Linked DNA regions of Homo sapiens: region 1 is linked to region 2. Evidence: fine-mapped expression QTL. A gene starts in region 2. The other region holds a variant in brackets. All regions are shown on one strand. Distances are between the middles of the regions.

Region 1 (8,316 bases), 22 kb after region 2:
CTCCAGTCCTCCCCGTTTTTCTCATTAGGTCTCTGCCTTGGTTATTGAGGTATAATTTAGATAGTAAAATTCATCCTTTTTAGTGTAAGGTTCTGAGTCTTGACACACGCATACATCACGTGGCCATCACCATAATCATATAGAGGGCGGCTCTCTACCCCTCTACCGGCCACCAAACCTTTCTCCTTAATCCACTCCTCCCCATCGTGGGTGTTGGAAGCAGCTGTTCTTTATCATTCACTCTGCCTGTCTGGCCATCTTTTGGCGGGAGGGTTGTCTAAATTCCCTAGGGTACTGTTACAGGGAGCAGCCACTGTTGAGATTTGGGGGTTGATAGGGGTCCCCTGGCTGGGGTGGGGTGCCATCCCCTGGGTGGCATGTTTCTTTGTCCTGGCCTGCTTTCTGGGTACAGCCTACACTCCACAGGCTTCCCCAGCCCCTGAGGTCCTACAGTGGGGTCTGGGGACAATGTGGCCTGCCTTGGCCCTGGCCCTAAAACACAGCCGGGGACCCCGTGCCTCTCAGGCTTGGCCTCTGCAGCCTCAGCTCTCCTCACCTCCCCCACGCCGTACACGGTGCGTCTCACCTGTTATGGCCTCTGACCTGTTGGTGCCAGGCCTGTGGCAGCTCAGAGACAGCACCAAGTCCCACAAGGGTCACTCCAGGGCTTTCCACCCCCTCTGCTTAGTGGACAAACTGCTGTTTTCCCCAGCCCCACACTTCAGAAGGTGCACGGGGGAGCCCTCGGGAAAAGGACATGCACTCGGGAAGGTTCAAAAGCAGGTGGAACTCAGAGGGTATGCCAGGTTGCATTTGTGGGGTCAGCTCAGCCTGGTTTTTAATTTTTTTTTAGAGATGGGGTCTTGCTTTGTGACCCAGGCTCAAGCGCAGTGGTGCGATCATAGCTCCCTGCAGCCTTGAACTCCTGGGCTCCTCTGCCTCAGCCTCCCAAGTAGCTGGGACCGCAGACACGTGCCATCACACCTGGCTAATTATTTTGATTGTTGTAGAGATGGGGTCCTGCCATCTTGCCCAGAGAGTAGCATGCTTTGGATCACTGTACTGGTTTCCTGGGACTGCCGTAACAAAGTACCACAAACTGAGTGGCTTAGGGACATTTCTTGTCTCACATCGCTGGAGCCTGCAGTTCTTAACCAAGGTTTTGGCAGGGCCACGTGGTCTCAGAAGGCTCCGTGGAGGGTGCTTCCTGGCTGCCTCCAGCTTCTGGAAGTTGCTGGCAATGCCCAGCCCTCTGTGGCTTCCAGATGCACAACTCCAACCTCAGCCTTTGACTTCCCGTGAGCTTTACGCCATGTGCCTCTGCGTCTCTTCTAAGACTCCAGTCACTGGGTCTCCTTCATGACCTCATCTTAACTGGATTACATCTGCACAGATCCTGTTTCCAAACAATGGCAGGTTCCGGGGGTTAGGACTTCCACCTGTCTTTTTGGGGGACATAGCCTGATCCACAACAATCATCACTGTCAATCATCATCACCTCATTAGCATCATTGTCAATCAATTACCCAGCTGCTCAGGAGGCCGAGGCAGGAAGATTGCTTGAGCCCAGGAGGTGGAGACTGCAGCGTGAGCTGTGATTGTACTCCAGCCTGGGTGACAGAATGGGATGTTATCTCAAAAACAAACACAGGGCCAGCTGTGGTGGGTCATGCCTGTAATCCCAGCACTTTGGGAGACCGAGGCAGACGGATCACGAGGGTAGGAGTTTGAGACCAGCTTGACTAACATGGTGAAATCTCCTTTCTACTAAAAATACAAAAATTAGCTGGGTGTGATGGCACGTGCCTGTAATCCCTGCTACTCAGGAAGCTGAGGCAGGAGAATGGCTTGAACCTGGGAGGCGGAGGTTACAGTGAACTGAGATAGATAGCGCCACTACACTGCAGCCTGGGCAACAAAGCAACACTCCATCTCAAAAAAAAAAAACAAAAAAACACACACACACAGAACAACCTCCTTGTCAATCTGTTCCTTTTAATGGTAGAACTCCTTGGAAAACACTTCTCCGGTGTGCCTCTGTGCCGCAACCCCTCTTCTCTACACTAACTCTGAGACCCTCTCCGGGTTTCCTGGGCCCGTGGTGGCTGCTCTGCCCCCTTCCCTCCCTGGGCTTCTGGTTTCCCGGCTTTGATGCCATCGTGCCCAGGTTCAGCCCCTGGGCCTCTCCTGTATCTGTCCACACTCATGCTCCGGGGAACCATGCTAACAAGTTACACAACTTGCTAGCTTGGATGACCCACTGTGATCTCACAGTGCTGTGGGTCAGGAGCGCCCCCACTGCCCAGGCTAAAGTCAAGGGTTGGCTCCAGGAAACTCCAGGGAGAATCCATTTCCTGCCCTTTCCAGCTTCTAGAGGCACCCGTATCCTTGGCTAATGGTCCTTCCTCCGAGCCAGCCCTGCAGTGCCCTCAGGCCTCACGTTCTCACCCAGACCCCCTGCTGCCTCTAACGAGGGCTTTTTTTTTTTTTTTTTTTTTTTGAGATGGAGTCTGGCTCTGTTGCCCAGGCTAGAGGGCAGTGGCGTGATGTCAGCTCATTGCCACCTCTACCTCCTGGGTTCAAGCAATTCTCCCGTCTCAGACTCCTGAGTAGTTGGGATTACAGGCACGCACCACCAGGCCCGGCTCATTTTGTATTTTTAGTAGAGATGGGGTTTTGTCATGTTGGCCAGGCTGGTCTCGAACTCCTGACCTCAGGTGATCTGCCCATCTTGGCCTCCCGAGTTGCTGGCATCACAGGTGTGAGCCACTGTGCCCGGCCTTACCGAGGGTTCTTGTGATGGCATCAGGCTCAGCTGGCTGCTGCAGAAAAACGCCTCCATCCCAAGATCTTTAATCATCTGCAGCCCCTTTGGCTGTGGGGACTCACAGGTCCCAGGGCTGAGACGTGGACTCTCTGGGGCTGTCGCTCAGCTGCTGAGGTGGCTTCTCCTTCCTGGGGCTGCAAGCGCCAGTCTTGTTGGCCCGGCTGCCTCTCCAGCGTCCCCACTGGGCTGTCCATGGCCTTTGACTTACCATGTCCTGATCTCCAAATGGCCCTGGCTGTCACTCCACATCATGCAGTACTGTGTGCCCTCAGGTCACACCAAACGCTGGTGGCCCACACCTGACTTGGGAAGGGGCAGGGCCCAGGCAGAGGAAGAGGATGACGGGGTGCCAGCCTGAGCCTGGAAGATGGGGGTCCCCGGCTGCCTCCTGACCCCATCCTCTGGCCCTCTCCCCGCAGACGGCATCCTGTCCTTCTTGAAGAACAACAAGCCAGGGGACGCGCTGTGTGTGCTGGGCCTCACACTGTCTGACCTGTACCCCCATGAGGCCTGGAGCTTCACCTTCAGCAAGTTCCTTCCAGGGCACGGTGAGCCGGGGCCCCAGCAGCTGTGCGTGGGGGGTAGCCTGGCATGGGGCTGTGGCCTCCGTGGCTGCAGGGCACCCTCTTTGCTTTTGCTTCAAGCACC[C/G]TCCTGGTGGAAGTCAACACCTGTGCATGGGAATAGATGGCCCCTTCCAGCTCCTCCTGAGGAATGGCATAGGGGCTGTTCCTCAGCTGTGGCGTCTGCCCCAGGGCCCAACTTCATGTGGGCAGGACAGGGCCTCCCAGGACTGGTATGTCTTTGGGCCATGGCCAGCTTGCATGAGAGCATGAGGTGGGTTTGACGGTGGGCCCCCCAGAGCCAAGGCTGACCCCTGAGAGTGCCCTTCTCTCCATCTCTCTCCAGAAGTGGGCGTCTGCAGCTTCGCCCGGTTCTCAGGGGAATTCCCGAAGTCGGGGCCCAGCGCCCCTGATCTGGCCCTGGTAGAGGCAGCAGCAGACGGCCCCGAGGCCCCCCTGCAGGACAGGGGCTGGGCCCTGTGCTTCAGTGCCCTGGGGATGGTTCAGTGCTGCAAGGTGGGTGGGGGCTCTGGGGCTGGTAAGAGGGGACAGGAGGGTGCTGTCTGAGCCCTTGGTGCCTCGGTCTGTTACACTGCCCCATCCTCACAGTGAAGTGGATGGACCCCTAACTCTATGGAATGAGGAAAGCAAGGCTACACAGCTATGAAGCAGCAGGGGAGGGATTAGAGCCCCAAGCCCCTATCCTGTGTGGCCTCCCACCCTGACTCACCTTTCCCCTGGGGCCCTGAAAGTGGCCTGTGCCGCCTGGGGCAGGGGGAGGGCGCCTGGACCACCTCCCGGCCATCTGGCCTCACCCAGGTCCTCATTTTGGTCCTGCTGGGGCTGCCTGGGGATCTGCCGGATGCAGGGGCAAGGCAGTGAGGCAAGGTGCTTGGTGGCCTTCCCCCCAGGTCACGTGCCACGAGCTCTGCCACCTTCTGGGCCTGGGGAACTGCCGCTGGCTCCGCTGCCTCATGCAGGGTGCGCTCAGCCTGGACGAGGCCCTGCGGCGGCCCCTGGACCTCTGTCCCATCTGCCTGAGGAAGCTGCAGCATGTCCTGGGTTTCAGGCTCATCGAGAGGTACCAGGTGAGTGGCTGAGTTGCGCTGCCCGGCTGCTGGGACCTGCGCTCCGGAGGCCCGCGAGCGCCGCCTGGAGGCTACGCAGGGCATGGGGACCGCACACAGGCTTTGTCAACTGCCGGGTTCCAGGCAGTGCAGAGCCCTGGGACCTGCGCTGGGGTTGAGCTCCATCCGGATCTCACTGGCAGTAGATCGAGTCCTGCCAGGGCCCGCGTGTGGTGGCTGTGACTGGGAGGTTGCAGCGGGGTCGAGTGGGGACGAGGGCTTTTCTCCCTCTGTCAGGAAGAGCTGGCATTGGAGCCCAGCCGGCGGGTGGCACGGTCTTCCCAGGGTAACTTTCTCTTTGCTTTCCCGTCACCCACACTTGGGTCACTGCTGCTCAGAGGAGGCACAGGCCCCTTGCGAGGAGGTGGGAGCTGACACAACAAGGCTTGTTGGAGGTGGCCTCCATTCCTAACTCCCTCTGTCGCCTGGGTGGGGTTGCCGAGCAAAGGGCTCGTCCGTATTCATGGACATTTGTTTGCAAGCTCAAAAGCTTTACTCTGAGTTCTGAGTGCAAAGGCAGGTGGTGGTAATTTTTCTTCAAACCCAGCTTTGGACTACAACCAGTTATAAGGTGCTCACTGCGTACAGGCACCAGAGCAGTCAATGAAACCGCGCTGGAAAGCCCCTGCATCCTCCTCCCGCCCGTTGAGGCAAGTGGGGGTGTGGTTCCCGGACCGAGCCTGTCAGAATCCCCTGCAGGGCCTAGCTGGGCCCTCCTTCCTTCTGGGGTAGAGTGAGGAGCTGTATCTTGCAGGGTCCTGGGTGACACTGAACTAGAGGCCGTGGCATTTCTAGCTCACAGTGCTGGAATCTCTCTGCAGGGATCCTCTCTGAAGACTCTGGCAGTCAAGGGAAGGTGAAGGGGGCACAGAGGAAACAGCTTTTCCAAGTGTAAGGAGAAGAGCCTGTGACTTGGGGGGAACCCAGGCGCAGCCATGGCTGAGGGTAGGAGCATCTCCCGAGGGTACAGGTGGCGTGATGGCTGGTCAGCACCTGGTGATGCCTTGTAAAGGTTGCTGCTGCCAGCTGTGCCCCGTCAAGGGGCAGCTCTTAGTACCTTCCTGAGGCTGTGTAACAGGCACAGGGGCAGCTTGGTCTGCAGAAAGGGTTGAGAGCTCTCATTTGATGCCTTCACCTGGGGTCTTGTGCAACCATCTGACATGAACTTTTAGAAAGTGTATGCCCCTCCCTACACGTGCTGACCTGGCATAGCCTGGATCCACCTGGATCTGAGCTGGAGGGTGTAGCTCCTCCTCCTGCCCAGAGCTCTCTCCGTTCCGTGAGCACCATCTCCTGAGGCTGTGGAGGGAAGAGGGCCAGGGCAAAGGCACTCCAGGGTGGCCTGGCCCTCCTGGCTGTTGTAGGGAGGGCAGTGGTGTGGATGTGAGGTCACCTGCTGTCCCAGGGCTTGGGGAGGTGCTGGAGAGCTGACCAAGGGCCTGGCCAGAAAAGGTCACTGCTGTCCACTGACAGCAATCAGTGAAATGCCTCTTGAAGAAAGCCTGACTTGTTGTGGTCTCTGCCACTTCCTGTGGTGTAAACAGTCTCACGATGGCTGATGTGAGCTCCCAATGTGATGTCAGTGAGTGCTGAGTTGGGAACAGATGTGCAGTGGGACCTTGTTAAACTGTGTGTCCCCTGTACAGATGCAGGAGAGGAGACTAACCTTGAGAGCAGAGGTGAGAGTGAAATGGAGAAAACATTTAGGAAGTGAGTTTCAAGTACTGCCTTTGCTTTACATTTTTTTCCCCCTGGTGGTCTCACTATGTTGCCCAGGCTGGTCTTGAACTCCTGGTTTCAAGTGATCCTCCTGCCTCTGCCTCCCTGTGCTGGGATTACAAGCGTGAGCCACCATGCCCACACCTTTGCTTTAAAATTTTAAATTTTATTTAATTATACGCTTTCTGGGTGGGTGCCGTGGCTCACACCTGTAATCCCAGCACTTTGGGAGGCGGAGGTGGGTGGGTCATCTGAGGTCAGGAGTTTGAGACCAGCCTGGCTAACATGGTGAAACCCCGTCTCCACTAAAAAATGTAAAAATTAGCCAGGCATGCTGGCAGGAACCTGTAAAATCCCTGCTACTCAGGAGGCCAACGCAGGAGAATTGCTTGAACCTGGGAGGGGGAGGTTGCAGTGAGCTGAGATCGCAGCACTGCACTCCAGCCTGGCCAACAGAGTGAGCCTCTGTCTTAAAAAAATCGAAAAATGTTAAGTGTTCTAACTTTGGATGACAAGGAGCTTGCGAAGTTCCTGAATGGTGAGCTCTTGGGGGTGGGTACCTCTGACTCTGGCACAGCCTGGACATGAGTCCTCAAAGGGTGCTGGTCACAAGAGCCCTCACACCACCAGCCTGACTCCCGCCCCTGGGTAACTGAGGACGGTGGGGTCCCCTTAGGTAAGGAGGTCTCCTGGCAGTTCCCTGGCTAGACAAGGGCTGGCACGGAGCAAACTCAGCCTGTGTTTCTCCCTCTTAGAGACTCTACACCTGGACTCAGGCGGTGGTGGGGACGTGGCCCAGCCAGGAGGCGGGGGAGCCGTCAGTGTGGGAGGACACCCCGCCTGCCAGCGCCGACTCGGGCATGTGCTGTGAGAGTGACTCGGAGCCCGGCACCAGTGTGTCGGAGCCCCTCACCCCTGATGCCGGGAGTCACACCTTCGCCTCGGGGCCAGAGGAAGGGCTGAGCTACCTGGCAGCCTCAGAGGCTCCGCTGCCACCTGGGGGCCCTGCGGAGGCCATCAAGGAGCATGAACGGTGGCTGGCCATGTGCATCCAGGCCCTGCAGCGGGAAGTGGCAGAGGAGGACCTGGTGCAGGTGGACAGAGCCGTGGACGCCCTCGACCGCTGGGAGATGTTCACGGGCCAGCTCCCGGCCACCAGGCAGGACCCACCCAGCAGCAGGGACAGCGTGGGGCTGCGCAAGGTGCTGGGGGACAAGTTCTCCTCCCTGAGGAGGAAGCTGAGTGCCCGAAAACTCGCCAGAGCAGAGTCGGCCCCCCGTCCCTGGGATGGGGAAGAGAGTTAGTACAGCAGGGGCTGCCCTACGTCTCCTTCCCTAAGGATGCTGGCCAGCACTGTCCAGTAGCTGAGGCCACTACTGACCTGCCAGGGATAAAGAGGAAGGGTCTGCCTGGGTGGTGGCTCAGGCCTGTCATCCCATCACTTTGAGAGGCCAGGAGTTTGAGACCAGACTGGGCAACATGGTGAGACTCTGCCTCTACAAAAGAAAAATTAAAAAATTAGCTGGATGAAGTGGTTCATGCCTGTGTTCCCAGCTATTCAGGAGGCTGAGGTGGGAGGATTGCTTGAGCCTAGGAGGTCGAGGCTGCAGTGGGATGTGATCATACCACTGTACTGCAGTCTGGGCCACACAGAAAGACTGTCTCCAGAAAAAAAAAAGTTCTTTGGAGAAGCCACAGACCACCTGTCTTCAGGCGCCTCCTTCAACTCCTGAGTCCCAGCCAGCCGCTCCCAGGGGCCTGCACACATGGAGAGGCCTCCCTGATCCTGGGTGCTTCTCGTGGAGTACAAGCCGGACTGTGCTGAGGTTGGGACAGAGCCCCCTCCCCTGCAGAGGCAGAAGGAAGCAGCGTGCGTCCTGTCTCCTTCCAGGCTGTGGGCCTGCCCTTCAGTTATTTATAGCTGGAGCTGGAGAGGCTGGCTCAGATGAGGAGTGACCCCGGGGGCACACAGGCTCCACACTGCCACCCAGCTTCCAAGGCTGAGTCTCCTCCCTAACGGGGAAGTGACGGGGTTTTGTCTCTATCATCTCAGGCGTCAACCACATGCACACACACACTGTCA
Region 2 (8,316 bases):
TGTTCTGTGGCTCGAGTTTGCTGGGTGAGCAGCTGCTGCTTCCCAGGACTCCTTGTGCCAATGCCCCGGGAGAGTTTTCCTCTTCCTTATAAAACCCGTGTGAAGCATTTTCCTGTTTTCCAATGTGGATGAGTTTCCTGCGGCTGCCGTGACAAATGACCACAGCTGTGCGGCTTCAAACAGCACACATTCACTGTCAATTCTGGAGGGCAGTGGTCTGAAGTCAAGGCTGGGGCAGGGCCGAACTTCTGCAGAGGGCTCCAGGGGAAGGTCCTTCCTGCCTCTTCCTGCTTCTGGGGGCTCCAGGTGTCCTTGGCTTGTGGCTGCACCACTCCCATCTCCGTCTTCTCCTCTGTGTCTCTGTGTCTTCAACTTTCTGTTTTTTTGTTTGTTTGTTTGTTTTTGTTTTTGTTTTTTTTGAGACAGAGTCTGGCTCTGTCACCCAGGCTGGAGTGCAGTGGCACGATCTCGGCTCACTGCAAGCTCCGCCTCCCAGGTTCACACCATTCTCCTGCCTCAGACTCCCGAGTAGCTGGGACTACAGGTGCCTGCCACCACGCCTGGCTAATTTTTTTATATTTTTAATAGAGACGGGGTTTCACCGTGTTAGCCAGGATGGTCTCGATCTCCTGACCTCGTGATCCGCCTGCCTTGGCCTCCCAAAGTGCTGGGATTAGAGACGCGAGCCACCGCGCCCAGCTCTGTCTGTTTTTTACAATATTTTGTAGAGATGCTGCCCAGGCTGGTCTCCAACTCCTGGGCTCAAGTGATCCTCCCACCTCGGCTTCCCAAAGTGTTGGAGATTACAGGCGTGAGCCACCTCACCCAGCCTCTTTCTCTCTCTTTTTAAAAAATTGTTGGCTGGGTGTAGTGGCTCATGCCTATAATCCCAGCACTTTGGGAGGCCGAGGCGGGTGGATCACTTGAGGTCAGGAGTTTAAGACCAGCCTGGCCAACACAGTGAAACCCCATCTCTACTAAAAATACAAAAATTAGCTGGGCTTGGTGGCACGCGCCTATAATCCCAGCTACTCAGGAGGCTGAAGCAGGAGAATCGCTTGAACCTGGGAGGCAGAGGTTGCAGTGAGCCAAGATCACGCCACTGCACTCCAGCCCGGGTGACAGAGCGAGACTCCATCTCAAAAAAAAAAATTGTCATTATTTTTTACATTGTCTTGTTCCTCCAATGAGGAACCTCTTTCTGTCTCTTACAAAGTCACTTGCATTGGATTTAGGGCCCACCCTGACTCTGACCCAGGATGACCTCATCTTGAGATCCTTACTTTAACCATATCTGCAACGACTCGGTTTCCAAATAAGGTCCCATTCTGATGGTGCAAGTAGGCACATTTTTGGGAGCCGCTATGTAACCCACCCTGGGGAAACTGAGGCAGGGCAAGGTGAAGCAGCTTCCCCAGGCCACACAGTTCTCTTTTAACCCCAAGTCGGCCTGGGTCAGAGGATGGTGATGGGGTCAAAGTTGGGGGCGGCCCCCTTTGTTCATCACTGAAAGGACAGGGGTCCCCATATCACGGCCTCTTTCTAGAATAGACTCTGACGAGGTAGCTTCAACCAGAAAGGGGTGTGCAGTCTGCCGGTGGGAGACCAGCGTGTCCCGGGTGCAGTGTGGACAGGGCGTTGGCTGAGTGAAGCCTTGGCTGGCAGGGGCCAGGTCATCAGCAGGCTGCCTCTGTGTTTCGGGGGTCCTGGCACTGGGCATGGCGCCACCCAACTTGGGGCACCCAGGAGGGGCCCTACTCATCTGGGCTTCCAGTCTCCCGGGCTGACCCAACAGACAGAGGAGGAACTGCCACTCTGGGCTTGACACATAATTGCTTTTTTTTTTTTTTTTTTTGAGACGGAGTCTCTGTCGCCCAGGCTGGAGTGCAGTGGCGCGATCTCAGCTCACTGCAAGCTCCGCCTCCCAGGTTCACGCCATTCTCCTGCCTCAGCCTCCTGAGTAGCTGGGACTACAGGCGCCCGCCACCACGCCCGGCTAATTTTTTGTATCTTTAGTAAAGATGGAGTTTCACTGTGTTAGCCAGGATGGTCTTGATCTTCTGACCTCGTGATCCGCCCGCCTCGGCCTCCCAAAGTGCTGGGATTACAGGTTGAGCCGCCGCGCCCGGCCTCGATGCATAATTTCCTTTCCGGTGGCTATTCAGGGAGGGGCGTGGGGGTTGGGGGGAGGATATTCCACAACTTCTTTGTAATAAGCAGCTTTAGGACAGAACATTCAGGCCAGGCTCGGTGGCTCACGCCTGTAATCCCAGCAATTTGGGAGGCCAAGGCGGGTGGATCACTTGAAGTCAGGAGTTCGAGACCAGCCTGGCCAACAGGGTGAAGCCCTGTCCTTCCTAAAAATACAAAAATTAGCCGGGCGAGGTGACGGGCACCTGTAATCGCAGCTACTTGGGTGGCTGAGGCAGGAGAATCGCTTGAACCCAGGAAGTGGAGTTTGCAGTGAGCCGAGATCGCGCCACTTGTACTCCAGCTCTGGGCAACAGAGTGAGACTCCGTCTCAAAAAAAAAAAAAGGCCGGGTGCGGTGGCTCATGCCTGTAATCCCAGCACTTTGGGAGGCCGTGGCAGGCGGATCACGAGGTCAGGAGATCGAGACCATCCTGGCCAACATGGTGAAACCCCATCTCTACTAAAAACACAAAAATTAGCTAGGCATGATGGCAGGCGCCTGTAGTCCCAGCTACTTAGGAGGCTGAGGCAGGAGAATGGTGTGAACCCGGGAGGTGGAGCTTGCAGTGAGCCGAGATCACGCCACTGCACTCCAGCCTGAGTGACAGAGCGAGACTCCGTCTCAAGAAAAAAAAAAAAAAAAAAAAAAGAACATTCATCTTTTCTCAGGTTCTGGGTTCTCCATCCCCAACAGAAATAACCTGGAAAATCCCTGCGGCAACACGTGTGAAGAAGTGCAGCTTTCTGAGTCACAATCTATTTGTAGGAATTTATCCCAAGGTGAGGGGGACCAGATACCTGTACAAAGATCTGTGGAAACAAGATCGTCTATCACAGTGATATATGCTAGTGAGACACCAGGAGAAACCAAAATATCCCAAAGCAGGTGACAGATCCATGACACGGAGTCCAGCGCAGACCATCAGGGTGTGGAGACGGACTTTTGGCTATTGATGAGTGTGAAGTCACGGGCCGCCTGCAGAACGCAGTATGTGACGTGAATCCCTTAAAATATGTATTTAGGCTGGGCACGGTGGCTCATACCTGTGATCTCAACATTTTGGGAGGCCGAGCTGGGAGGGTTGTTTGAGCCCAGGAGTTTGAGACCAGCTTGAGCAACATAGCGAGATCCCATCTCTACATAAAAGTTTCAAAATTAGCCAGGTGTGATGGCACGTACCTGTAGTCTCAGCTACTCAGGAGGCTGAGGGAGGAGGATTGCTGGAGTCTAGGAGGTCGAGGCTACAGTGACTCGCGTTTATACCAGTGCATTCTAGCTTGGGCAATAGAGCAAGATCCTGTCTCAAAAAAAACTTTTTAAAAATACATTTCAATGTGGAGGAGAAGGCGATCAGAAGGATGTCTGACAAGAAGGTGAGAGAGGTTACCTCTACACAGTTGGCTTATGGGGTCTTCTTTTTGTTTTTATTTTTCATAATTTTCCAAATTTTGCACACCGGACACCTAGTGTTGTGTTGTTTTTCTCTCTCTCTCTTTTTTTTTTGAAACAAAGTCTTGCTTTGTCACCCAGGCTGGAGTGCAGTGGCATAATCTCGGCTCACTGCAACCTCCGCCTCCCGGGTTCAAGTGATTCTCCTGCTTCAGCCTCCCGAGTAGCTGGGACTATAGGCACCAGCCACCACGCCCAGCTAATTTTTTTATTTTTAATAGAGACGGGGTTTGACCATACTGGCCAGGCCGGTCTTGAACTCCTGACCTTGTGATCTGTCTGCCTCAGCCTCCCAAAGTGCTGGGATTACAGGCATGAGCCACCACGCCCAGCCGTGTTATTTCTTAAGGCTTAAAAAAATTCTTTGAGGCTGGGTGTGGTGGCTCACGCCTGTACTCCCAGCACTTTGAGAGGCTGAGGCGGGTGTATCATGAGGTCAAGAGTTTGATACCAGCCTGGCCAAGAAGGTGAAACCCCATCTCTATTAAAAATACAAAAATTAGCTGGACACAATGATGGGTACCTATAATCCCCACTACTCAGGCGGCTGAGGCAGAAGAATGACTTGAACCCCGGAGGTGGAGGTTGCAGTGAGCCCAGATTGCACCATTACACTCCAGCCTGGGCGACAGAGCGAGACTCCATCTAAAAAAAAAAAAAAATTCTTTGCACTGGTGTGGGACGATGGTGACGAATCCCTCAGCCATCTGTGGGGCGCTGCTGAGGGCGTGGGGGGCATTTCTGCACGGTGAAGCAGAGCTGGTGGGAGGCTGCCCGAGGGAAGCTGGTGCTGGGAGGGTTTGCAGAGAGGAAAAGGGCAGTTTATGGAAAAGGCCTCTGGGCTCTGTCTGGAGCCGTCATGCCGGCCTTCACGGCATCCTTCCGCACTTAGAGTCCTTTCCATCTCCTGGTGGCTGGCACAGGGCCAGGGCTGCACTCACAGCTGGCCAGGGTAGGGCAGGGCGCCCGTCCTCAGGGCCACTGACTGTAGGGCTAACCTAGGGGCCTGGTTCACCCCTCTCACCTGGGGCTTCGCTGATAAGCCTGGTTCACCTCCTCACCTGGTGGCCTCGTTCACCCCCTCACCTGGCGCCTTGCCTGATAGCCTGGTTCACCCCTCTCACCTGGGGCCTCTCCTGGTGGCCTGGTTCCCCTTCCTCACCTCGTGGCGCTGGTTCACCCCTCTCACCTGGGGCCTTAACTGGTGGCCTGGTTCACCTCTTCACCTGGCGCCTTGCAGAGTAGCCGGGTTTACTCCTCTCACCTGGGGAGGCACGAACTGGCCCGGGCTGACTGACCTCCCTCACCTGTTTGGCTTTAGGCTCTGGGGCCCCCCTGCCCGGGTGTTTCTGGGAGGCTGGAGGGTCCCACGTGAGCTCCACCGCGGGCAGCTGGAGGGAGTGGGGCAGGACGCTGAGCGCCGGGAGGGGTGTGGCCCTCCTGTCCTGCCCGCGGCCCCACACCGGCCCCAGTCCCGCCCGCCTCGGTCCCTGCCCCGCGCGCCGACGTCACCGGGACCTCCCGATCCTCCCGGCCCAGGCCGAGCTGCCCACGCTGCTGCCCGGGGCTCGGTGCCCGGCGCGGCCTCTGCCGGCTCCGGCGGGCGCGGGACTGCGAGGTAGGGGGGCGCGCGGGGAAGACTCGGGGGCGCAGGGACCGAGAGGGACCTCCGTGCCGGGGCGGGTGGGTAGGGGCAGCTCCGGGTCCAGCCCGGCCCGCGCACCAAGTCCCGAGGGCGCCCGGGCGGCGGCGGCTACGGGCGCGCGGGGACCGCGGAGACGCGAAGGGCGCACTTGGCGAGGGTTTGGTGCAGCGCCGCGCCGGGGTCCGCACAGCCCCGGCAGGTCCTGCAGAGGGAAGGCCGGGCCAGGGAAGGGCCACGCGCCCCCTCCCCGCCATCCTCTCCCAGGCCAGGGCGACCTGCGCGCTTCCCGATGGGAGCAAACTGGGGACGGGTCGGGAATCCAGGGCCAAGCGCCCGAAAGAAGGCGTTTCCGGGCTGGGGCGAGCCAGGTGGGTGCGGGACGTCCCCGGGGAACCTCCAGGGCGCCGAGAATCTCGTCGTGCCCAGGGCTCCCCGCAGCCTGTGTATGAGCCGGGGAGGGAGAAGGCTTCCTCCCCCAGGAGACTGAGGGAGAAGGCTGTGGATATGATCCCTGCAGGGATGTAAGACAGGTCTCAAAACCAGAAAAGCAAGGGAGGGGTGACAGAGAAATGGCAAACTTTACAAAGGACAGGGGAGGGCAGGGACCTGGGTCCTTTCTGCCCCCATCACGGGAGGGAAACACTTGGCAGAGGAGTTTGGGGTTCGCAGGTGAGGAGAGAGAACAGGAAGCCAAGAGTCTGGCCCGGAGGCCACTACCCCTGCGGTCTAAGCCCCCGGTTTTCCCTCCTAGCGAATGGAAACTGAGAGGTGAGAAACCCCCAAAACCATCCGTCCGTCTGGTTCTGCCTGAAGGTCTCCGCTGTCAGCTAATGAATAGCTCGATGCAGCTGCTGGGAGGTTTTGCAAAGCGCATTCAGAATAGCGAGAATCAGAGCATGGTTTCTTGCCCAAAGGCCAGGCATCTGCGTGGTCAGATGGGGGAGCATGAGTGCCCGGAGCTGTGCGGTTTAGGGCAGCCTGACCTTGGATACCTGGTTACTGGGCCAGTCTGGCGGCCCTTGTTGCTTAGAGCGGCAGAACCTCCCTGGGGGGGGGATGCGGACGTGCTCTTTTCCAGTCTTTGGACAAAAAAAGGCAAGGGGAGGAGGAAGGAGAAGCGTCTGAGTTTACCCATGGTATTAATAGCAGCAGGGCTGGAACTCGGGTGCTCTGGGAGAGGAGACGTCCTACCCCCTGTCCCCGTCAGAACATCCCTGCTCCAGGAGCAGCTGGGGTTCCAGTGTGAAGCGTGGCTTTGAAACCAGGCCCCGCTGGCCCCCAGCTGTGTCGCCAGGGCCAAGTCACTTAACGTCTGAGCCTCAGTTTCCCCACCTGAAACACCGCAGTGGCACCTGCGGCTCCGTGTGTGGCTTGGAGGACGCAGGCATGAGACCTGTTGGCTGCTGTCATGACTGCAGTTAGCAGAGGAGGGGGACACACTGTGACAGGGTCCAAAGGACAGCGAGAAACCTCCATCTGGGGGTCTCCTTTTTGGAGCATGGATGGGTTGGTGAGTGCCAGAGGGTGCTGCGAAGCTGACCCCCACTAAGGCGGCTCCCTCCCCGTGGGTACCCCCAGGGCTCACATGCAGCTCTGGCTCTATGTGAGGAGTGGTCTTGTGCAGAAATGACCTGGCAGGATGGAAGGACTCAGCTGGCAGCTGACAGTGGGGACCGGGGTTTTCCTGAATGACCCACGAAGACGAATGTGGCCACAAGGCTTCTTGAGAGGAAATAGTATGTGGGCAGACGTCATGCCCTGGATGCCCGAGAGCTGTACCCGTGTTAAGGGATGGAGGGAGCTAAGCGTTCTCATTCCTAGCTTGGAGCCTGTCACACCATTCTCCAGTCTGCACTAGGAGGTGGCTGTGTTTTTGTGTGTGTGTGAGAGAGAGAGAGAGACAGACAGACAGACAGACAGGGTCTTGCTCTGTCTTCCAGGCTGGAATGCAGTGATGCAATCATAGCTCACCACAGCCTCGACCTCCAGGGCGAAAGCAATCCTCCCATCTCAGCCTCCCTAGTAGCTGGGACCACAGGCATGCACAACCATGCCCAGCTAATTTTTAAAATGTTTTGTAGAGACGGGGTTTTGCCATATTTCCCCAGGCTGGTCTCAAACTCCTGGACTCAAGCGATTGTCCCGGGAGGTGGCTATTTTTAGAGCTTGCCTCTCACATCCTGTTGATCTTCCAGCCGGGCTAGTCTGGAGCTGGCGTGGCCACTCCTTCCCGGGCGGCTCAGGTTGGCTGAAGGTGGTGTTGTGTCTCTGGCTGGGTTTCCGATGTAGATGCTCTTGAGTTACCCACGTGCCCGCCACTGCTTGCGGGTGTGCAAACGGCCTCTGTGGTCGTGGCTCCTCTGTGCGTGTGCTCTGGTCCCCTGCAAAACTTGTCGCTGTGGCCCTTCCTGTTGCTCCCATTCGGTCCTCCCTGAATAACTTAGATGGGCCTGAGGTTGGCAGTTTGGGCCCAAGTCACACCTGGAACCAATGTGGTAGGGCTTGTGAACTTTTGGTAAAAAGAAGGCATTTCTCAGCCGGGTGTGGTGGCTCACCTCTGAAATCCCAGTGCTTTGGGAGGCCGAGGCAGGCAGACCACTTGAGGCCAGGAGTTCGATACTAGCCTGGCCAACATGGTGAAACCCTGTCTCTACTAAAGATAACAAAATTAGCCTGGCATGGTGGCATGCGTCTGTAGTCCCAGCTACTAGGGAGGCTGAGGCATGAGAATCGCTTGAACCCTGGAGGAGAAGGAGGTTGCAGTGAGCTGAGATTGTGCCACTGCACTCCAGCCTGGGTGACAGAGGCAAAAAAAAAAAAAAAAAAAGCATTTCTCATTTCCTGATGCTTTGCCTGGAGTAGGAGGGTTTGCTGGCAGGGAAGCCTCTGACCAGGGTTTTCGGGTGGTCAGGTGGGTGTGGGTGCTGGCAGGAAAGCCCCCTCAAGAGTAGGGGAAGGTCCGTGTGTGAGGACTGGAGTCAGGGGTCTCTGTGCTGGGAGTCAAGATCCAGGTGAGCTGTGTAACCCTG

What was found. PIP is the estimated chance that this variant, and not a neighbour inherited with it, causes the effect.
Region 1: its variant is fine-mapped to the expression of AMZ1 in whole blood (TOPMed, PIP above 0.99).

What each region holds. Positions count from the first base shown.
Region 1 is chr7:2,705,342-2,713,657 of GRCh38, forward strand. It overlaps AMZ1 (archaelysin family metallopeptidase 1), which reads left to right. Exons shown (of 7, transcript NM_001384743.1): 4 at 3,247-3,375; 5 at 3,734-3,903; 6 at 4,299-4,475; 7 at 6,989-8,316. The coding sequence ends at 7,537. Among named protein-coding and RNA genes, the nearest start is that of AMZ1, 21 kb to the left of the region's middle. RefSeq lists enhancers at 4,203-4,302, 4,222-4,917, 5,063-5,282, 5,293-5,342, 5,983-6,142 and silencers at 4,463-4,622, 7,801-8,000. The variant C/G (reference allele first, on the strand shown) is at 3,476.
Region 2 is chr7:2,683,037-2,691,352 of GRCh38, forward strand. It overlaps AMZ1 (archaelysin family metallopeptidase 1), which reads left to right and starts at 5,166. Exons shown (of 7, transcript NM_001384743.1): 1 at 5,166-5,260. RefSeq lists an enhancer at 5,865-6,134.